Linked DNA regions of Homo sapiens. Each later gene encodes a partner of the first gene's protein in a complex. Links are inferred from orthologs where the notes say so. Each region holds a gene or a part of one and is shown in the gene's direction. Other genes may lie near its edges. The genes, in order: PTPN22, CSK and PSTPIP1.

What was found.
Region 2: the proteins of PTPN22 (region 1) and CSK are in contact, whole or in part, in an NMR structure (PDB 1JEG), measured with the Mus musculus proteins. The link is inferred for Homo sapiens from one-to-one orthologs. Residues at the interface, in NP_033005.1 of Mus musculus: Pro614, Pro615, Leu616, Pro617, Glu618, Arg619, Thr620, Glu622, Ser623, Phe624, Ile625, Val626, Val627; in NP_001291690.1 of Mus musculus: Phe20, Thr23, Gln26, Ala40, Val41, Thr42, Lys43, Asp44, Asn46, Trp47, Ile59, Pro61, Asn63, Tyr64.
Region 3: the proteins of PTPN22 (region 1) and PSTPIP1 are in contact, whole or in part, in a crystal structure (PDB 7AAM), measured with the Homo sapiens proteins. Residues at the interface, in NP_057051.4 of Homo sapiens: Ser793, Lys794, Pro795, Gly797, Pro798, Arg799, Asn800, Pro801, Pro802, Trp805, Asn806; in NP_003969.2 of Homo sapiens: Thr225, Arg228, Asn229, Trp232, Asn236, Ser239, Met240, Cys242, Val243, Asp246.

Annotation. Positions count from the first base shown.
Region 1 is NC_000001.11:113,868,614-113,876,577, reverse strand, and holds the start of PTPN22 (tyrosine-protein phosphatase non-receptor type 22), read left to right. Parts: upstream 1-4,865; 5' UTR 4,866-4,954; coding exon 4,955-5,041; intron 5,042-7,964. UniProt on the Homo sapiens protein: Acts as a negative regulator of T-cell receptor (TCR) signaling by direct dephosphorylation of the Src family kinases LCK and FYN, ITAMs of the TCRz/CD3 complex, as well as ZAP70, VAV, VCP and other key signaling molecules.
Region 2 is NC_000015.10:74,785,029-74,792,127, forward strand, and holds part of CSK (tyrosine-protein kinase CSK), read left to right. Parts: intron 1-3,515; exon of another isoform or gene 3,516-3,549; intron 3,550-3,643; exon of another isoform or gene 3,644-3,729; intron 3,730-5,788; exon of another isoform or gene 5,789-5,918; intron 5,919-7,099. UniProt on the Homo sapiens protein: Non-receptor tyrosine-protein kinase that plays an important role in the regulation of cell growth, differentiation, migration and immune response.
Region 3 is NC_000015.10:76,990,609-76,998,221, forward strand, and holds the start of PSTPIP1 (proline-serine-threonine phosphatase-interacting protein 1), read left to right. Parts: upstream 1-4,517; 5' UTR 4,518-4,796; coding exon of another isoform or gene 4,797-4,965; coding exon 4,966-5,001; intron 5,002-7,613. UniProt on the Homo sapiens protein: Involved in regulation of the actin cytoskeleton. May regulate WAS actin-bundling activity. Bridges the interaction between ABL1 and PTPN18 leading to ABL1 dephosphorylation.

The DNA of each region.
Region 1 (7,964 bases):
CACATGCCTGTCATCCCAGCCACTCAGGAGGCTGACGCAGAAGAATTGCTTGAACCCAGGAGGCGGAGGTTGCAGTGAGCCGAGATAGCACCATTGCACACCAGCCTGGGTGACAACAGCAAAACTCTGTCTCCAAAAAAAAAAAAAAAACTTCAATTGCAAGTTATTGGTTGACCTTTGCTTCTTGAGGATTTTGAAACCAAAGGCAGAGTATGCTTCCCTGTGTAGTGGGAGGTTGACTATGAAGTCTGCAGCAGGTGAACTGAAGGACTTAGTGAAGTCTCAGAATGCTGTAGTGACAAGCAGTAGATTGAAAGATGGGTAGGGGGACTTTTCCTACCCGGGATGATGTGAAAACATGAGAAAATCAAACAAGCTTCGTTAAAGGTATTTTATAAGCCTCTTCTGTGTTCATTTATAAAAGGAAAAACAAGCCTACTCTAGAGATAAAGGAGGTCATTTATTTCTGGCCATTGCAGTTCTTCAGAGATGGACTCTGAAGCTCAGTATTGACACCATTCCTTTCATAATAATAGCCCTGCTGCTTGGGCAGCAGCATTCAGGAAAGTACCCTTTGCCAGGTTCCTGTGCCTCCATGTAGGAAGGCCCATCTGCTCCTGGCATAATGAAAGTGCCTAGCTAGAGACAAGAAGCACAGACTGTGCCAGACAAGAGACTTGGAGTAATTGATATAATGAGTAACCAAGTGAGAGTAGATCCCTCACCAAAGCGTAACCACATTAGCTACTTTATCACAACAGACTTATTTTTAGGTATACTCAAGACCATGTTAAGCACTGTGGGTTATACAAACGCATAGAATACACTATCATTGCCTTTGATAAATCTGAAAATACAGGGGACATCTTTTGAATAAACTCTTAAATAAACTTATAGGAGACAAGGAAATTGAATAAATGAAAACTTCTATAGCTGAATATACAGATTTATATTGAAGAGATTCAGACTAAGGGAAGATCATGGCGAAACAGAGTTAGGGGCAAGATTTTTGAAGAAAAATTGAGCTTTATGGTTTTATTTTCATTGTGGTGAAACTTAGGGGTAAAGGTGAGAAGTAGAAAAAAGTGGTAGTAGAACGAACGAGGTCTGTAGGTGATGTGCTTGGATAGGTTGGGTGGGGATAGTTGACAGGGAGGGGCTTGGTGACAAGCTAAGGAATCTGGACTTGTTCCCGTAGATCATCAATAACTATTCTGATTCTTTAGCATTAAAGTGCAGTTTTAAGAACTTTCATCCAGCCTTGGTTAACAGGAGATACTAGAATGGAAACATATAGATAGGAAGATACTCTAAGTTTATTGCTATAGGAATCCGGGTGTGAAAGTGGGAATGGGGCTAAGTGGGAATGGAAAAGACAGGTTGAATCTAAAAGACATTGAGGAGAAATTTCCAATAGGCCTTGGTGATCAAAAGAATGCTTACAAAGGACTGAATGTTTCACAGACAGTATATATATCCCATATCAAATCAATGACCCTGGAATGTAGGGAAAGGCAAGAGTAGTGAAACTAAAGCTAAGGTTGGGTAAGTATCTTCTCCAGGGTAAAACATGTCTCCCCCTCATCTAAAAGACAGAAGGATGTTCTGAGAATCCTGAATGTTTTTCCTATTGAATAGTTTATCTTACCCTTGTAGTCTTCCCTGAAATTCTCCTCAATTAATGTTTATTGTAATCTAATTCCTGACCTCTGTGATACTGATATTTCCCCTTAAACTAGCATACTCCCCTCTTCTTGGAACAGGTGACATGGTGACCAGCACTCTTCTCTGTTGTGTTCTTCCTTCTGACCAAGCACTACAGCCACATGAGGCAGCAGTGAGATGTGGCCTTGTCACTCCTCTTCAGGTGCTTATCCACAATTTACTTCCCACAATTTACTTGATGGTTCTGGCAAAATGTTTGTGAGTCTTTTTTTATTGCATGGAATTGTGTTCACTTAGGTTTTATGCCAGACTGGTTTAAATGATTCATCATAAATTCTGAAACTCTTTTAGGTATTTGCCAACCTTTACTGCATGTCTTGTTTCCCCTCCCCAGCTCTTTATCTTCCCGCAAGATACAAATGAGTCAACACAATCTTCATCAAAAAGCATTGTGCTCTGTAGAAGGAAGTGTGATAAATTAAGTAGTAGCTTATTTTTTTAAAAAAAAAATAATAGCTCCAGCTACTTGGAAGTCTGAAGTGGAAGGATCACTTGAGCCCAGGAGTTCCAGACTAGTCTGGGTAACATAGCAAGACCCTGTCTCAAAACAAAACAAACAAACAAACAAAAAAACCCAAAACAAAAAAAATAATTAAAGTTTTTTGTTTTCTTCTTCAGTTTGTTTTTTGCTTGCTTGAGTGGTCTGCTCAGGAAATGGCCTTGTAGCTAAGTGGGTTTTGGGGGTTTGGTTATTTCACAATGTCTCTATACCTTTTGGGTTTACAGTAGAATAGATTGCTGCTTGCTTTTTTAAAAAAGTGTGAAGTTCTGCCAAGACACTATTTACAGATTCTTAGATTTTGAGGAAAGGGACTATGGAGGCATCTAAGCAAAATTTTTTTTGTTATCTCCTATTTATTTCTGTCTTCTCCCTCATTAAGAAGAAACAAGAAAGTTAGTAAGAGATTGTGCTGAAATATAGGCTTGAGAAAAATAGATTTAAATTTTATTAGGCAGGTTTGCCTCATCAATTAATAAAAATTAATAAAGTTCTAGTTTTGTGTAATTGAGGACATTCTAAGGGTACAGAGAAATTATAAAACTATATTATCTTCTTTGTCCAAACATAGAAAATCATTTTCCTTTTAGGATTATGCTTTGCTACTCTGCAATTAAGCAAGTTAGTTTGGAATGTTTTTATTTTTATTTTCTTTCCCAAAGTTACCTAAGGAGTGTTTTAATTTTTATCAGTAATCATGTCTGTATCTTTAGTTCTGAGTTGCTTTATTAACTGGCTAAGGATGTTTTTGTTTTGTTTTGTTTTGTTTTTACCATATTCTGGCTTTCTCAGTGTTGTATGCCAATCTCCTAAGACAATGTTTAGAATTTAGTGGGTACTCAATAAATTTGTTGAACAACTTAATGGATTTTTAAATGTTTATTTCTAATTTTAAAAACGGTATGATAATTTTAGAAAGCAAACTTTATCATAATTCTAAAATTATGATAATTTTAGAAAGCAAACTTACACAATTGATTCTTTTTTGCTTCTTTTAGTCTTTAACTATGTACACACTTTTACATGGTTTTAGTTATTACAAACTTGAAATTTTGTATTTTTATAAATCAAAGATTTCCCATATTTTATGTTTTAAAATAGCCAAAGTAAACATCACGTTACTTAGAGCAGCAAGAAATTCTCTCTTAATTCTAGATGGGGATAATTTAAGAAATATACTATTCCTAACAAATATTGCTGAAGAATGAGGGTTTATTTTAATTTATGTATACTGGGATTGAGTTTCTTAATTTGAAATATTGTCTTTAAGTTGTCTATAACCAAGATATCTCGATGATCTTTCTTTTTTTTTTGCAGTACTTAGTAAAGAGCATGCAGTATCTTTAATGTTCAGATTAAGCAGTGTTCAGAATCATGATATCCTGAAGGAAGTTTGAATAATGTTGCAAAACAGAAAGGATTGCTAATATCTTAAATAGAGGAAGTCCTAACAACACATTTCCCAGTTTTCTTCAGGATCAAGACTAATTTTGTTAACATTTGTTGAACTTCTGCCTTCAATAAAGATGATATACTGATTTTTGGATGTTCTCACACTGAATTAGGCACTTGGGTAGACTTGTACCCATTGAGAGGTTATGCAAGCTCAAATGTGGAAAGTTTTTCTAGAAGAGCCTGCCTTTCAGGGCCAAAATGCCACAGGCACAGCATAACTTCCTGAAACAAATTTATTTCCTAAGACATTGGTTGCAGAGTAGAAATGTGTTCTTTAGAAACAGTTCTTCAGGCTTTCTGCCCTAAAAGTTACAATGTTGTCAGCAAGGTGGTTGATTTTACTTTCTTTTTGTTCCATCACAGTTTACCAGCATTACATATGCAGGGTATTGAGCTAACTGTCTGGTCAGGTGCTCCTTGTGGGGGCCACTTGCTCTAGATCCTATATAGACCAACACTCTTAGTCTTTATATCCAGAACCCAAGTGAAGCTTCAAAGGTTACTGGGAGGGTTGAAGAGGTGCTGAAATCAACACTTCCCTTAATGGAGGTCAGCACTTCCCCAGTCCTGGGAGAGACACAGACTGTCAGAAGCATCTGACTTTGCTTCATTCAAAAGGGAGTTTGAGGTATATATAGCAGACTTAAAAGTTATGAATAAAAATACCTTCTGTGATGAACAGAAGTTTCTCATTGATCACACTGACAAGAAACCTTTCGATGAACAGTCCGGGTAGAAGACATGTCACTCACTCTAAACAGTGTCTGTCTTCTTTCCTGGGCCTAACTGAACTTTGCAGAGTTCATTTGGGACATAAGGAAACAGAAGGTGTCAACTTGGCCCTTGTGCTCACTGGGAAAATGGGGAGAGACAGAACTCATTCAGGAGACCTGTAATTCTGTTCTTTCTCTGGGAGGCAAGAAGAAAGGTGAGTTTTGCATATGGGTGATGGAATGGAATAATCTCAGTTAAGCAGACCACACTTTACGTTCTAGTTAGCCTCTTGTTTGTTAAAAATTTGAATTGTAACCAGGTTCCTTTGCTGAGAAGGAAGGCACTAGGGCCCTGGAGTGAGATGATGGCTGTGTTATGTGACCACAGAAGGTGGTTACGTACTAATTTCCTCTAGGGCTTGTGATGAAGTCAGTAAACCACAGCCTTCAGCATGCTCTGCTCAGGCGGCAGCAGTGGCTTTTTGGAGGTGTCTCGGCCATGACACACATTTGACATGCCCTCCCTCAACCTACTTATAGACTATTTTTCTTGCTCTGCAGCATGGACCAAAGAGAAATTCTGCAGAAGTTCCTGGATGAGGCCCAAAGCAAGAAAATTACTAAAGAGGAGTTTGCCAATGAATTTCTGGTGAGTCCTGTATGTGACCCTCTCAGGGTAGTTACATACACTATTTAACTGACTATGGGGGTCCAATTTTCCGAGACCAAATTGCTCTTGGGATAAAGTAAATATGAGACCTTGGCGGGGAAGACAGAAAAAAAAAAGTTTGACTTCTCTGAGTGGTTTGCATGTATTTCAGGTATTCTCTCAAAATTACTGGTTTTAATATTTTGTTTGCTAGTTCTTTGGAGTTTGGTTAGGAATCCTACAGAAGACATATACAACTCCAGATGTAAAAACACTAATATTAATTGAACATCCAGATTTCCCCAGGTATCTAAGTTGTGGTTTATGCTTTATATTACTAATTTTAATTAATATTAAGAAGAAAGAGACCAATGTTAACTTTTCATGCAATATTACATTTTTAGCCTCCCCTCTGGGATTCTATTTGGTTGACAAAGGTTTTTGAAGAGCACCAAAACTACCCACTGCCACAGTTTTTTTTGTTGTTGTTGTTTGTTTTTTTAAGATTCAGAATCTTACTCTGTCACCCAGGCTGGAGTGCAGCAGTGCAACCACAGCTCACTGTAGCCTTGAACTCCTGGCCTCAAGTGATTCTCTTGCCTCAGCCTCCTGAGTAGCTGGGGCCACAGGTGTGTATCGCCATGCCTGGCTAATTTAAAAAAAAATTGTTTTTTTCTTTTTTGTAGATACGAGCCTTGCTTTTTTGCCCAGGCTTGTCTCGAACTCCTGGCTTCAAGCAATCCTCCCATCTTGCCTCCCAAAGTGCTGGGATTACAGGCATGAACCACTATGTCTGGCCATCATTTTTCTTTTCTTTTTCATATGAAAAATATATTATAACATGTGTTTTTTCAATAACAGGGCTTCCTTAACTTCTTTTGCTTGGAGAAGTGGAATGGCTAGGATGGAGAGTAGAGACAAGTGTAGGTCAAGGAGAGAAACATGAGTACAAGGTAGCTTCAGGTTGGGTGGATTAGATTACCCAGAAGAACAGTGAATCTCCTTTGAGAGAACTGTGATTATTGATGCAATGGCAGCTGGGTAGGCCTCATTCACCCTACAAGCTGAGATATCAGATAACATAGGGTGTCTAATAGTACCTATCATGTATTTTAGAATGCTTACAGCTGGCGTTTCAGAGATATAAGAATTTTAAACCTTAGCTCTTCAGTTGTGAAGAAATGGGTGGAAAGAGGGGAACTGAAGTACAAACCTGAAATTAAATCATGATTTTTTTTCACCAAATTATGAAGTATTTGACATGTTCTTAAATCTCTCTGTTTTCTAACTTATAAAATGGGGATAATAATACATGTCCTACCTATCCTCACAGGATTGTTGTGATGATTAAATATCAATAACAATCATTAAATGTGGTCATTTATTGAGTACCATTTATTGAGCACTTAGTATGTACCAAGTTCAGTTCTAAGCACTAAAAATACAGCGGTGAACAAAAAGAACCAAAACCTTTGCCTCCTGGAGCTAACACTCTGGTACCGGATAGCAGATGTGAAAACACTCTGAAAGTCTTGAGTAATTAGATATTATTGAGTGATTAGATATTATGATAGGAACTCCGATGTCAGCTCAACATGGATAATCTTGTGGTACTATGAAAAATGTGCTCTCACTGCCACTGGCTGATCAGTCTGAGCCCCTCTGGTAGAGTTACCTGAAAGGAGATAAGTAGGAAGTTCTAGCACATGTGTATACATGTCCCTGCCCCTGGACTATAATTCCTAAGCCAAGGTAACCCAAGGCATAGATGTAAAAAGTGAGCTGAGGGGCAGTGCCGGCCTCTGTTTTATTTTGGTTGTGTTTTTTAAAATAATGTAGACTGGCCGGGGGCAGTGGCTCACACCTGTAAACCCAGCACTTTGGGAGGCCGAGGCGGGTGGATCACCTGAGGTCAGGAGTTTGAGACCATCCTGGCCAACATAATGAAACCCCATTTCTACTAAAAATACAAAAATTAGCTGGGCGTGGTGGCAGGCACCTGTAATCCTAGCTACTCAAGAGGTTGACACAGGAGAATCGCTTAAACTCGGGAGGCAGAGGTTGCAGTGAACTGAGATAGAGCTGTTGCACTCCAGCCTGGACAACAAGAGCGAACTTCTGTCTCAAAAAAAAAAAAATGTAGACTATATCCCTAATATTTTACCTTTTCTCAGCTAAAGTCATTATAATTTCTCACCAAAATATAGCAGCTACCTCCTAACTGGCTTCTCTGCCTCTAGCCTTGCCCCACCTTCAGTCAATTTTCAGTTCAACACCCAAGTGATCTTTTAATCATACAAATCTGGTCTTTTTTTTGGGGGCGACAAAGTTTTGCTCTTGTCACCCAGGCTGGAATGCAATGACACCATCTCGGCTCACTGCAGCCTCCACCTCCCTGGTTCAAGCGATTTTCCTGCCTCAGCCTCCCAAGTAGCTGGGATTACAGGCATGAGCCACCACGCCTGGCTAATTTTGTATTTTTAGTAGAGACAAGGTTCCACCATGTTGGCCAGGCTGGTCTGTCCAACCAGGTAATCCACTCGCCTCAGCCTCCCAAAGTACTAGGATTATAGGCATGAGCCACCACGCCCAGCCAAATCTGGTCATTTTTTCCCTGCTTAAAAACTTGTTATAGTTTTTTTTAGCTGCTTAATATTGTGCAATATAATACACATTTAGAAAAGTACATAAAACATTTAAGTATAATTATAAAGCAACCATTAGCAGTGCAACCACTACCCAAGTCAAGAAACTGTCAGACCCCCGAAGACCCATGCCCCATCAGGTCCCCTACACCCATCTGCCCCTGTCCTGTCCTACCCTGGCCAAGGGATAATCACTATCCTGACTTTTATATTAATCACTTCCTTGCTTTTCTAGCTCCTGATTTTAAGGACCTTGTTTTTGGGTAGTGATTAAGTGT
Region 2 (7,099 bases), on another chromosome or scaffold:
TGAATGTACTCATTTTCTTGATTTAGAAAATAACAAAACAGCGCTACAGGAAATTTAGAAAATGAAACAAAAATCACCCACTATTTCTTCAGCAGGCAGTGACTGTGTTAGCATTTTGGAGTTCACTGCCAGTCTTTTCCCCATCCTTTTCCTTCATTGTCGTTGTCACTGGAGTGTGTGTGCCGTGACACCTTTTTTCATTTAATACTGCGTCTGTGGGCATTTTCTCATGGTGCTACGCGGTCTAAGTAACGTTGCTTCTAAAAAGCTACAGAACATTCTAGGCTGGCCTGCTGCAGCGCCATCACCCATACACTGGAGCGTGTGCATTTTTCCCCTCTGTTGCTGTTGTGGTTGTCGTTACTATGAGTCCCAAAAGCAGCCAGGGTGTTGGAGGGCACAAGCAACTTGGCACCCAACTGAATGTGGGTTCCAGGCCCAGACATGCCACTTAGGCCCAGGGTAGAGGGACCTTAGACAGGTCACTGACCTGCTGAGCCTCGTTGATATAAATAACAGGATGGTAACACCTACTTCAGAGGAAGGTGTAAGGACAGTGTCAACTAACTAACCAAGGGACTCTAAAGTGCCTGGCACAGCCCTTTCTTCACTCCCTCTGTGAGTAGGATTGGCATTGTTGAAGGAGTGCCCACTGCTGGCTGCCTCAACCTGTGGGGAAGGTGCCTGAGCCACGGGCCAATGTTGACTGACCACTCACCTGGCAAAGAGGTGGTCTCCGCCTGAGGAGCCCCTGTGAAACCCCCTGGCCCTGAGGTTCTAGAATACTATGGCCAGTGCCCTTGCCTGCCTTCCCTTCTCCCCATTACCATATGATTGGCTGGCCTAGGACATGGGGCTGGCCCTGGGAAGATGGGCTGCTGGTTAGGGTCCGGGACCTGACTCCACCCATTCCCCTTCCGGTCTCCCAGCATCAGAGCTAAATAGACAAGGCCTCTTCTCTCTCTCTCTCTCTCTTTTTTTTTTTTGTGTGTGTGTGTGTGTGTGTGTGTGTGTGAGATGGAGTTTTGCTCTTGTTGCCCAGTCTGGAGTGCAATGGCGCGATCTTGGCTCACCACAACCTCCGGCTCCCGGTTTAAGCGATTCTCCTGCCTCAGCCTTCCAAGTTGGGATTAGAGGCATGTGCCATCACGCCTGGCTAATTTTGTATTTTTAGTAGCGATGGGGTTTCTCCGTGTTGGTCAGGCTGGTCTCAAACTCCTGACCTCAGGTGATCCACCCACCTCGGCCTCCTGAAGTGCTGGGATTATAGGCGTGAGCCACTGCGCCTCTTCTGTAAGAGCCTGGCTGCCTCCTGCCTCCCAGCTCTGGCTAGGTCAGCCCAGCTTGGCATTTTCCCAGAGGAAATAGAGGCCTGCTTAGCCTGAGACTTAGACAAGGAACCCAGGCATCCTGAGCCCCAGCCCAAGAACAGCCATGCCAGCCTCATCTTCGCACCCTGTTCCAGTAGCCAAGGAAGGGAAAGAAGCTGGGAGATTAAGGGTAGGGGGATTCTGGAGCCTCCCAGAGCTTCCCAGGAGGGAGTTGGACACATCGGGAAACTCATGTTAGCCTCCCCCTCCTCAGCAGGTGTTCCCCAGGTCTAACCTGAGTGTGTATCACTGTGACACACCTGCTTCCTCTTGTTCTACTTTTGTGGAGACCAGGGTAACTGGGAGTGCCCTCCTACAGCCACCCCGTGGGCAGTAGCAGGACACCAGTCTCCTCCTGGCAACCCTGGGCCTAAGAGACTGTAGCCCCAGATGACCCTAGGGTGGCCCAGGACTAACCTAAGGAAGGGGTCCTCCCCCAGGTGGCCCATTCAGTGCAGAGGTCCCTTGGGCACACGACTTCAGACTCCAGCTGCCAAACTTTGGCCTGTGGAGTATCTCCTCCTCCCTGGTCTTAGTGTAAGGGAAGTGGGCATGACAACTGCCCTCCTGTCCCACAGCTTGGGATGGGATGAGGTCACAGGGTGGGGTCCGCCCCAAGATGCTGGCCTGGCCTGGCTCAGATGAGAGCCCTTTGGGTGTTTCTCAGTTTCCCCCGCCCTTGGTTGGGGACAGGATGGGTGGAGGAGCAGGCCACCCCCAACGCCCGGCAGGGAGCACTGCCTCCCTTCCCCCTCTCCTCTGGGTCCCTTCATCCAAGGGCTGGAAATAGAATCCGCTAAGTAATGATTAAAGTCAAATTCAGACCTAAAAATAAAGAGCTGGTGAAGGAAGAGCTGGTGCTCCCTGCATGGCTGAGGGGAGAAGTGAGCAGGGAGAGGCTGGCTTTGGGTGGCTGAGCCCCTGCTCCTCGGGATCAGAAGTACTCCACCAGTTGGGGGGGTGCTCTTTTATCTGCCATGATGTGGCCCATTAAGTGTAGACGGCACCACTCAGGGCAGACTGGCAGGACCCATTAGAAAAAAAATCCCATTTTTCCCATGGGGAAACTGAGGCCCAGAAAGGAGAAGTGGTTTGTCAAGCGACTATTTGAGAGCTCCCCTCAGCAGGCCCCCAGGGACTGGAGGGCCCTGTGCAGCCCAGCCTGCCCTTTCTGCCTGCTCAGTTTCTCTTCCTGGTTTTGAGGTGCTAAGATGAAGTCAGCTTCTCATCACACACTAGCTGTGCACACACCCTCCAACCGCAGCTTCCCTCCACCCCTCCTTCTGTGGTCTGGGCCCAGAGTCGAAGGAACAAGTAGAAGAGAGGCTGCTTGGTGCCCCCCTGGCTGTCCTGATCATGGCATGGTTGTAAGCCTCGTGGGCAGGCGAAAACCTGGGCATCATCTGCCCCCCTTGGACCCTGGCTGCTGCTTCTCAGCCCAGCCTGACACCTGGTCCTCATGCAGACTCGCGCATCTATCTATCTGCAGCTTGTGCTGTCCGTGCTGCAGGGAGACAGGAGGGAAGGATGAAGAGCAAACCCTGAGAGCGCCTCTGCTGGCGGGTAGAGGAGACGAGGAGTCAGTGAGGGGAGGCCTGTGGTTCTCACTTCCTGGCAGAGCTGGTAGGAGCTCTGAAGCTGGGGCTCTGCGTGGGCTGGGGCAGCCTGGAGGGCCTCCTGGAGGGGAAGGTCCTGTGAAAGTTGAGAAGTGTTTGAAGAAGAAGCGTGGTAGGAGGAGAGGTCCTTGTTTGAAGCTTCTGCCCTCTCTAGGGCTGCTGGCTCTTTTCTGTGTGTCCCTCGACAGGCTCTTGGCCTCTCTGAGAGGCTGGGGTATGCAGACAAGCAAGAAGTGGGCACAGAAGTACCTCTGCTTCCCAGAGCAGAACAGCCAAGCTCTGGGCAGACCTCCCCTCGGTGCCCCCCACCTGTCCATTTTCAGGGTGTCGTCTGTCCTGCACAAGGAAAGGTGGGAAGAAAGGTCCCCTAACCAAGGTTCAGACAACTCTGAGCTCAAGTACCCACACAGCTAGTTCCTCCTCTGTCAGAGATCACCAGTCCTTGCCCTATGGGGTGTTTGAAGGATTAAGTAACTAATGCAGTGCCCCAAACCCGGTTGGGTCAGTCAGCTGTAATTCCCGTGTTCTCATTCTGCAGCCCATCCTGCTGGAGGAGTGTACTGGTAACACCCCCATCTCCCTTAAGTAGTAGCAAGTCTGTCCTTTGTGTTGATCCCCACAGCTTTACCTTCTGAGCTGTGTGTTCTGCAGATCCTGGTTCTGAAGTGGGGAGACCAGAAATCTGGGGGCCGAAGTTTTAGACAGCTTATGGGCCTCCAGCCGTCAGTCTCCCCACCTAGAATGTGGCCAGGAGACTTCCGGGTGAGGGACAAGAACATGACTTTGAAGGGTCCATTGAAGGCTAGTGCTGAGAGGCTATATGCAAATGCAGGCAAATGAAGATGCAAAGACCACATCCTGTGCTAAGGGGGTGGGGGAGCAGAGGCCTGGGTTAGGGCCCTGGGGAGGCCCAGAGTCCCCATTGCCCAGCGCACATAGGTAATTAGGCTCCTGAGCGGTAATTAGAAACCTTTCTGGGCCAGGAATGGCAGCCTCAAGCCGCAGCGGTGCCTGGGGAGTAGGCTCCCCATTAGCCTGCTCTAACCCCAGCCCCCACCTCTCCCAAACCACTAGACGGGATTTCCGGTCCCACTGAACCATTGGGGGCAGGGGAAAAAAAGCCAGTGTGTTGCTATAATTTGGTATTTATCCATTAAATCCGCCCTTCTCCTTAGGTCAGGGTGCTGACGGGAGCCCCGGGATGGGGGTAGGGCAGCGTGCCCTGGAGCCAGAGCAGGCATTCTTCTGTTCCTTCGTAACCGCCCCGGGAGGTGTAGGCATCTCCAAGACCCTGGCGCCCAATTCTGCTGCTGCTCACCCTGAGACACCTGTGCAGTGGGGGTGCTGAGGGACCACCAGCGCAGGCTGCGGGGGTCAGTGGAAGCCCTCGGGCACCCTTCCTTGCCTGATGTGTGGTGGGGAATGTCACAGTGCCTCAGCCTGGTGTCCTCTGCAGAACCAGAGGTGGAGCTGATTTTATTGCTGCCAAACTTGCCCAACTGCTGGTGGGTGCCCCGCCCTCCTCAGGTGCACTGCCCTTTGGAGGGGCGGGCCCAAATCTGAAACTTAATTCTGCCTGTATCTGTACTATGACCTGTAGGCCCTGCTCGGAGGTTCCCTGGGCCCCCATCCTGAACCTTCTTCAGTCTTCATTAACTCGCTCTGTACCACAGTTTGCAGTCTTAATCCTGGTTTACTTCAAGGCGCCCCTCTCTCAGTCACTTTCCCCTAAAATCCTTCTAGCTCCTGCTCCCCTCACCCATCTTCCTGGAAGCCTTCCCGGGTGGCCCCTGTCTCACAATCTATTGAGGCACTGAACATACCAGGCCATGGCTGACCATCCAGTAACCAGGAGGACAGGAGCCGGGTCTGCATTTTGTGGTGGTTCCCAGCATCCAGCCCTGGCTTGTGCACAGAGGAGAGGTGTGTGAGTGGTGACCTTGGGTCCCCAAAGGCAGGACCTCTTGAGTCCTTTCCTTCTCCACCCGGATATCCTGGCCTACCAAGCATGGCTCTGGGCACACAGGAAGGCTTCTAAAACACTGGCTCAAAGAATGAGAAGGCAAGGTGGACCTTGCTGTTGCCTGTTTTGCCTCCAGTGGCTGTCCCCATCCCCCAGAGCATCCAGCTAGGTCCTGTGGCAGCACCAGAATCTCCGGGGGCCAGGGCCCTGAGTTCCCCCAGGTCTTTTGTGCACTTCCCTTTTCAGTGGGTATTTTTAGCTGGGCGTAAACAGTTACTGAAGGCTCCCACGCCCCATTAGGCAGCAGAGTTTTGGCAAGGGGGAAGGGCAAGGGAGCCCCTTGACCTCCCCTGGCCCTCAGCACGTGCCTGGCCTTGGGGGTCTACAGCTGCTTCCAGGGTAGGAAAAGGGCAGCCTGGGAGTTTCTGGGCTCCCAGTTCTTTCTCCCCACTCCTTGTCAGCCTGGGCTCACAAGAAAGGCTGCCTGAGGCTGCAGCCACTGACCTCAGCGCTTGGGCACAATGCCAGCCTGTTCCCGGGACCCCAGCACAAGGGCTGCTGGGAGCCGGGTTTAGGGCAGGAAGTCAGAGTGAAGCACTGGTCCTGCCACATCCCAAGCCCCTTGTCCCCTAGCCCTGCGGGAATGGGGTGACAGCTGCTGTCCCTTTGGGGTTAACTATAGTCCTATTGGTTATGAGACCTCGGTGTGGTACAGCCAGCCTGGCGTCCCCTTTTTTTCATTCGTTCATTCATTCATTCATTCAGCACTCATTTACTGAGCAGCCGCTTTGGGCCCAGCCCATGCAGACGTGAGTCAGACCCTCACTTTCCCCCTGCAGAGCTCCCAGTCCACCCTAAACCACAGGCCACAACCAGTGAGGTTCTCACTGGAGCACGGGGATGTGTGAGAGGCCTTGGAGGCCTCGGCAGCCAACACAGCTGGGGACCCAAGGAATTCTCCAGAGAGAGGTGATTTACAAAAAGTTTCTTATTTCCAGTTTTAAGGGGGAAGGTAATAGATGCATGTGGCTTTAAAAAAATAATAATAATTTTTTTAAAAGCCCAAAAGGACAAAATAGCAAATGAACAGTAAAAAGTAAGTTTCTCTTGAACTTGATCTCACTTTCCCTTCTCATCCTAGAGGCAACCTCTGTTACCAGTTTCCTCTGTCTTTCCAAAGATAATCGAGGCATATTTGAGTTTAGGGAGGTGTTGCATTAATACCTCTTTAAAAACACAACTTGTAGTATTCCATAGAGAACCTGCACCTGGCTTTTTTTTTCACAGCCTTTTATTTTGAGTATTTGAAACCTACCAAAAAGTTGAAGTAATAGTATAATGAATATTCATATATCCTTCATGCAGATTTGCCAGTTCTTAACATTTTGCCACATTTACTCTATCTCTTCTTTTATCTACATAGACATATGTGTGTATGTATTTTTTGCTGATTTGAGTGTTAGTTGTAGGCATTGCATCTTTCACCCTAAGAACTTTAGCGTGTATCTCTTATATAATCACAATGTCATGATCACACTTAAGAAAATTGACATTAATTCCATATTATCTACTATGTCCATTTCCCCTCTCCCCAAGTGATTTTTATAGCTGTCCCCCCGACCACCCCTTGATATAGAATTCAATTCAAGATCATTTATTGAATCTTGTCATGTTTCTCTAGTGTCCTGTTCAATCTAGAACATTCTCCAGCCCTTTTTTTGTTTTGCTCTTTTATGACATTGACATGAAGAGTCCGGGCCAGTTGTTCTGGATTTGTCTGATTGCTTCTCCCTGGTTGGAGTCAGGTGGAACAGCTCTGGCAGGAACGCCCCCCCGGGCAATGCAGAGTCCTCCTCCAGGAGGCACTTAGTGTCCATGCGTCACCTTGCTGGTGATGCTTCACTGGATCACTTGGTTCCGGGGTTGTCCGCACGTCTCCCTGTAGTGCAGGTGCTCCTTCCTGTTTCCAATTAGCCTGTGGGATGGGACTTGGAAGCTGTGTCTGTTCTGCTCCCCTGGCAACTTTTTCTTCAATGACTTGAGCTGGTGTTTTGCCATTTTCCATACTCTATCATGGGGAGTGTTCAGTATCGGCATCTAGAGATCTCCCCTGGCCCCATCACAGCTAGAGCTATGCTGTCCCCTTTCAG
Region 3 (7,613 bases), on another chromosome or scaffold:
GTCTGTAGGCCATGTAAGGGCAATGGCCATTGTCCTGAGAGTAATGGAAAATCATGGCAAGGTGACAGTGGGACGTTGATATGACCAAATGTGGATCTGAAAATGTCACTCTGCTGTGTAGAGAGCAGACAGGAGTGAGCAGGGTTGGTTTCATAGATGTACAACTCGTGTAAGCAAATTGTACTTGGGGTCTAATGCTCTGAGATTGCTGTCTTGGAATTCTTAATCACATTATTTTTGAATTTGCTTTTCTTAAGTACAGTCTGGTGGGACAATGAAGCATACATCAAGGACTTGGAGCCTTGGCTCCTGTGGTCCTGCTTCCAACTGCCTCCCCTGGACTTGTTCTCAGTCTTCTCCACTTCTGCCTAGCAACCACTGCCACACTCTGCCCCCAGCAGAGACCTGAGTGCAGGCATGGGGACAGTCCGGGTCAAGGGCACACCTGGTAGCATCTGAGGATTGGCCATGGCAATGTGGCCCCTGCCCCAGGCTGGCAACACCATGGCAAATTCAACAGGCGACTCAGGGGGCTGAGCCTCTCACTCACTTCTGACCCTGGTTCCTAGTGCATCCTGGCCTGGATTTTGCAACACCCCTGGGGACTGCCTGTCCGCTGTGGGTTGGTGAGGCAGGTCCATGGGAAATGGCAATGCCTGGCTTGACTTCCCCAACCTCCGCTGGGGAACGCAGAATGCAGATCAGCGTGGTGGCTGACAGGAGGAGAAGTCCAGCAACTGGTGAATTTCACACAGAACTGAGTCAAGTCAGAGGGTGGGGCGGGGCAAGTTGTCCCACAGATATTCCCATGCCCAAGGGAGTGTAACGTTAAATAACAAATCAAAAACACCATTCCAGGTTGAGAGAGAGACTGCAGTAAAGAAACAAGTTTTATAGATTAGTACCTTTAACGGCAATTTTGTCCCTGCTTTTTGAGTAAGAGGTCTCACATTTTTATTTTGCACTGGACTCGCAAATTATGTAGCTGTCCAGGCAGTGAGCAATCAGTGAGATCAAGCTTGTGAAAGTGATGGAGGTCCTGTAAATATTGATCCTCCTTCTGTGGCAGCTGTTGTTACTGGTTTTGTTGTTTCTGTGGCTCAGAGGGATGGATGAAGTGTCTTCAGGAGCGGAGTCCTGCCAGTCAGTGGTGGGGGCTGTGACAATAAATGTTATAAAAACTGATTTTGCATTTTATTCTCAATCCTTGTAGCTACTGCTTCTTGAATTCTTCAAGCAGATGTGTTCAGATACCAGGCAAAACAGGCAGGGGCTCTGCCTGGGAGGGGTATGCCCCCACAGCCTGGCCTGAGGCACAACTGCACAGACCTCAAGGCAAATTGTTTTGAAGCAGCTGGAACAGTCACTAAAAAGCGGTGATTTTCAGGGATGGATTCCTCTCCCCAAGGGCCTGGGCCTGGGTGTGGGTGGGGCTGGTGTGAATAGGGGCCCCCTAAGACAGTACTCTTTTCTGAGGGGCACTCAGACATCTCAGTCTTGCTCCTCCATCTCCCTGACATCCCACCAATCCACTCAAGCCCCATCGCACCTGCCCCAACCAGACCTCATTCCTGTAAAAGTCATCACAATATCTTCTTCTGGTCTCACCCGCTCTGAGCCACTCCTTATGGAGAAAGAACTCCCTAGAACCTGTCTGTCAGTCTCTAGGCCCCTCAGAGCAAAAACCAAGTCTGCCTCCCCTTGAGGCCCCGGTCCCAGCAGGACCCTGCAGGAGTTGGTGCTCAGCAGTGCTTGTGTGCCTGGGCTGAGGAGAAGGTTGTGGTGGTCACGTGGTTGGCTTTCGGCATCCCCGGCTGCCCATTCGCAAGGCCAACCATGGGGAAGTATGAGCACGTGACCCACCTAGGGCCAAGGAGACACAAGGGAAGGTCTCCTGGGGAGCTGGGCAGAAGGGAGGGTGCAGGGGCTTTGGAGAAAATGAGACACAAGGGCAGGTGTCCTTTTCTTTCTCTGCTTGTGGCTGTGTCTGGAGTTGTAGATGAGCTGCTGCAGCTCCTTGGCCTCCAGCCCAAGGAGGAAGATCGTAAATGCAAGAGAAACTCAGAGAGACTGAGCTGAAGCCCTCATGTACCACAGCTGGAGGCTGCCCTGCCTCCAGCCCCGTTGTGTAGATGACAGCACACGTCCTCTGTGTCAGACCCTCTGGTTTATGTTCTTTGCAGCCAAAAGCATCCTCAACTGATGCGAATAACACAGTGATGCAGAATAGCATGTGCTAAAGGCTGGCCTCTCATTCCTATGGCACCATCAGCCCCGGTGGCTTCCCTAGATTGTTTTTCCTTTTATTGACTTGGGTGAGAGGGTCTCGAGGTAGAACTGGAGAAAGGAACAATGAAACGCTTTTTGAATAGAGGGCTGTTAGTAAAAGACAACTGTGGAAGTTAAGAGCGTGTGCTTTGGCTTCGGACAGATCTAGGACCAAAGCCCAGCCTTCTGCTTATTGCCTGCTACTTGGGTGCGTTACTTACACTCTTTAATCACTAGTTTGCCCCTCTGTAAAGTGGGGATAATGACAGTGTAACTGAGGTGGTCCGTGTGAAAAGCAGAATGATGTACCCGGTGCTGGGTAAGTACTCCAAAGCCGAATTGGCTGTCTGGTCGCCCAGCCTGGGGACCTGCAACAGGTAAGGGTGGAAGGGAGGGGAGGAGGAAGGCCTCTCTAGTAGAGAATTGCAGAGTCTCTCCAGAGGTTCCTCACATTACTTCCTTCCCCAGTTGCTCCAGCCCGTCACCAGCATGGCCCTCCATCCGGGGCTGCCCTGGCTGGACAGGTACAGTTGGGAAAGGAAGGCCTCATGTGTGGGAGCCTTGAGGTTGGCTTTGAGGGTGGGAGGATTTGCCCAGGTAAGGAAGATCAAGGAAGGCTTGCCAGAAGGGAGGCTGGGAACAGAGCAGGTGGGAGTGGGAAAGGTGCCTCCAGGGAGAGGGAAGAGGCCTGGCTGGAGCAGAAGTCTCTGGGAGGTGATGGGAAGGACACCTAGAGAGGCAGGGCAGGGAGCCCAGCTGTAAAAATTTCTGCCAATAAGCAGGCAGGAGCCTTCTGTTAACAGAGGGTCTCTAGTCTGCTCCAGACCTAGAGGCATCATCCCATCTGATGGATGGAGAAACTGAGCTCAGGGAGGCTGAGCCAGTGCTATCAGAGGTGGTGGTGCCATTGGGAGGTGAGGTGCAGCCTGGCTCACTCTATGGCCTACAAAGTTCAAGGGGATTTTTACACTATTAATTGTCTTCAGCTGCAAGTAACAAAAAACCTGACTGGGGCGCCTTACAGATTAAAGATTAGCTCAAATCCAAGGTTTCTGGAGGTGAGGGCCTTCTGGGGGCAGTCCCATTGCTCTGCAATCCTCCCCAAAGTGTTTCCTCTTGGGTGGCTATTTCAGAGCCTGGGTGTGCCCCCTCTCTCTAAACCCTGGGCATGCATAATGGGCACTTGGGAGCTCAACTATTTCATCTGCAGCAGCTCTCATCTTATCACCCCGTCAGCTGTAAGGCAGACATCAGTGAGGGTGGTGATTTGCGGACAATCCCTGACTCACCCCATTTTGCCAGCCTGCCCTGGGCTCAGGACTTCCTGCTGCATCTTCTGCTGAGCCGGCAGGGCGTGGCGTCTCAGGGCTGGGGCTGGGGCTCTAGTCCAGGGCTCTTCCTAAGGTGGTACCACACAGTGCCCCCAGCACCTGCCCACCAAACTGGAAATTCCAGAAATATTCTCGACACCGTCTACTTTCCAAAGACTGGGTGTGGCAGATGAGGAAGCTGAGGCTCAGCGAGTTGGGGGGTCTATTAAGGTCCCTCAGCCCCTGAAAGGTGGGGTCAAAATTAAACAAAAACTGGGCCTCAGACTGGGTTTCCAAACACCCCACTCTGTGCCTTGATAATCCTGTTTCTCTCTCCATCCATTCCCATTCACTGAGCCGGAAGCCTCCATCTTCAGAAGGGGGTTCTCTGCCCCAAACAGCGTCTAATCTGGAGACTTGCGGTGGTGGCGGTGGTGGTGGTGGGGGCAGTGCCGGGGCCTCAGGCTGTTCTCCCTCATCTTGCTGCCTGCTCACCTTGCCTCTGTGTGCTCACAGCCCCCCAGAGCACAGCTGTGTCTGCTCCCAGACTATGGGCTCCTTGAGGGCAGGACCTGGTTTGGGTCCCAGAGCAGCCAGGGTTTGATGAATGACAGATGCCCTAGACCTGGGTAAGCCCCTCCAGAATGACTTGCTAGTGCGGGGTGGGGAGTCTGGCATCTCTGGGCCCAGCCTGGAAGGGTGCTGGACTGGCTGGCGGGTGACACACCTGGGGTTCCTGGGCCCCTCCTGGCCACACTGTCAGTGGGCCTCAAGCTCCCTTAGCATATGGCCTCTGGAATAAAGTGAGCCCGCACCTCGGGAGGGGGCAAGCAGAGGCAGGAGCAGGATGGCAGGTGGCAGGCGGGGCTGCACAGGGGAGCACAGCAACTCCACTTCCTGTGGGCGAGGGCCCTGTGCCTGCCCCGGGGGAGGTTGCACAAACCTTCCTGCGCAGGCCTCGGGCTGCCTGCCTGCCTGCCTGCCTGGCCCGGCCCGAGCTCCAGCCTGCCTCTTCCACTGGCCACTGCCTCCCACCCAGGGCTGGCATCCCTGCTCCCTGCCCTGGGTCCCAGACTGTGTCCTCCATCACCGCAGGGTCGGTGAGGGGCTGGGCTGGACACCAGGGCCCGCCCTCCCATCACTGAGCTCCACTCCTTCCTCATTTTGCTGCTGATTCTAGCCCCAAACAAAACAGGTTGAGCTTTTTCCTCCCCTCAGAAGCTCCTCTCTGGCTCGTGGCTGCCTTCTGAGTGTTGCAGACGGCGCCGGCCGGGAAGGGGGGCCTGGGCCAGCCCTGCCAGGACTGGGACGCTGCTGCTGGCGCCTGGCCCTCCATCAGGCCAGCCTGTGGCAGGAGAGTGAGCTTTGCCGCGGCAGACGCCTGAGGATGATGCCCCAGCTGCAGTTCAAAGATGCCTTTTGGGTGAGTGAGGATGGTTGGGGGCACTGAACAAGTGGAGGGGGCAGAGCTAGGCTGAAATCTCCATGCAGGTGATGGGATGCGGCTCCGAGAGGGGAGCTTTCTCATAAAATAGTGGTTGATTCTTGGTCTTAATTGTCATGGAGGTGGCCCAGGCCCCCACCCCTTCTGGACTGGAACGCAAGTGGACTCCGTGAATGAGCGTCCTCCTCTCTGCTGCCCCGTGTGTTTTCTCCTCTGGGAGACCTCTCCCCACAGCAGGAGCTCCTCAGAAGAGGGTAACACATGGGTGGGGGCTTGAGGAGGATGTGTGGGGCAGCAAAGGAGGGGTCACAGATTTAGAGACCAGACAAACTTGAGTTCAGGTCTTGGCTCTGTTACAGGCTGGGCAAGTCATTTCTGTCTCCAAGCCTCAGTCTCTCCATCTATATAATGGTGATAAAATAGAAATCAACACACCAACTAAAGCATTGGATCAGCAAGGGGATCCAAGGCACTAAAGCCCCCAGCACCTTGCCTCACTCCAAATGGTAATTCTGTTCCCCTCACCCAGCCCCTTGTCCCTTGCAGACCTTAGGGGTCCTTCAAGGAGGCAGCCAGGTGGGCAATGGCTTGCTTACTTTCTTAAATTCAACACGGGCTTAAATCAAGTCATTTCCCCCATGAAATAAGGGCGCCCAGCCAGTGGTAGAGGTAAAGTGGCTTGGCCCGGGCCACGTAGCCTGCAGCCCAGCTTGGACCCCTGGTCATCTCAGCACTTTTCCAGCTGTCCTTCAACTACCCCTCTGCCCCTCAGCTCTGGCTGTGCCCAGGGCTCTGGGGAAAAACTGAGACCTCTCTGGTTGGAGCTGGGGAATGTGGCTGTCCCGGGGTGCTGCCTCCAACCCCGAAGAGGACGCTCTGGCCCTCGGCTCAGCCGGCTGAGCCCCAGCCAACAGCCCTGCCCTCCCCGGGCCTTTTCCTGGGGCTGCAGCCAGGAGGATGAGAGCTATGGAGCCAGGCCTTCCTTCCCTTCCGGCCGGCTCCACTTGGGGCCTGTGGCCAGCGTGTGAGTGTTCTGCTTCCTCTGCTCTGACTGTACAGTAGGCAAAGGACCCCACGTGGGGAGGGCACCTTGTGCCTTTCTGGGCCTCAGTTTCCCCATCTCTACAAAGACAGGGTGGGCCCAGCCCAGAGAAGCCAATGGAGGCAGAGCTGCCTCAGCCCATCCGGAGGACCAGGCACCAGGATGCTCAGGGCCCAGGCTGGCAGCTGGAGCCCTGGGGGATGGGGGATGTGAGTCACCACCTAGCTGCCCTGCCTTGGTGTGCAAAGTTGGGGGAAGGGGTAGGGCCTGGAAACCCAGGCCACTCTGTAGCCCAGGGCAGGCCAGGACCCCTTGACTATTTTATCACTGAGACCTCTGTCCAGTCCTAGAGCCCCTGGGCCTGCCTTCCCTAGGGCAGAGCTGGGCAAGGAGCAGCCTCCATGGCAGGATCTGGGCACAGGTAGGGGTGGCGTATAAGGGAGCAGGGTATGGCAGCCGCAGCAGAAGCAAGCAGCCAGCCCCTGTGGAGCTTCCTGAGCGGCATCCTGCCCACACTCTGTGCTCGTCGCACCTCTGGGCTTCCTGGCCTCCAAGTGCCTTGTCTCCTCTGTGTCTGGCTCCCTGAGCCTGGGGCGGGCATATAGTTTCCCTAGGGAAGGCCAGAGCAGGAAGGGGAGAGAAGTAGCCAGTGGGAACCTCTCACACTGAGTCTGGGCCGATGCCCCGAAAGGTCACTGTAGGCATCACCTGCCCCAGGGCTCTGGATTCTAATACCTCTTCCTGATGCTCAGCCCATCCCAGTGCATAACAACTAACATTTGCTGAGCACGAAAGATGTGCCAGGCGCTGTTCTCAAGATGTATGCATATTCACTCATTCAATCCTTCAAACACATGCTACTGTTATCTCTCTTATTCAGATGAGGAAATTGAGGCACGGAGATATTAAGAGACTTGCGCAAGGTCACACTGCTGGGATTAAACCCCTGGCAGGCTGGCTTTAGCACTTGTGTTGTTGCAGGATCCCTCTGTCTATCTGACATATCACTGGATCTTTTGGCTTCGGGGTAAGATAAGAGGTAACCCCTCTTATCTCCCAGAGGGGTAAGAAAATCAGACAAGGTGGCTAGAACAATATTCTGAAGCTTCATTTGTAGACAAATCTGTAAAACAGAAAAGGCACACTACTCTGGCCACAGGTGTTATATTAGGAACAGCCCAGCCAGCTTGGCCCATGTCTGGGCCTTCCCCCACCCCAGCCCAAGGCACTGTCATTAAACCCTTCAGCCTGCCAGCACACTGTTTAGAAATGACTGGTTTTTAGGCGGGGTGCAGTGGTTCACGCCTGTAATCCCAGCACTCTGGGAGGCCAAGGTGGATGGATCACTTGAGGTCAGGAGTTCAAGACCAGCCTGGCCAACATGGTGAAACCCTGTCTCTACTAAAAATACAAAAATTAGCCAGGCGTGATGGCATGCTCCTGTAATCCCAGCTACTTGGGAGGCTGAGGCAGGAGAACAGCTTGAACCCAAGAGGCAGAGGTTGCAGTGAGCTGAGATTGTGCCACTGTACTCTAGCCTGGGTGACAG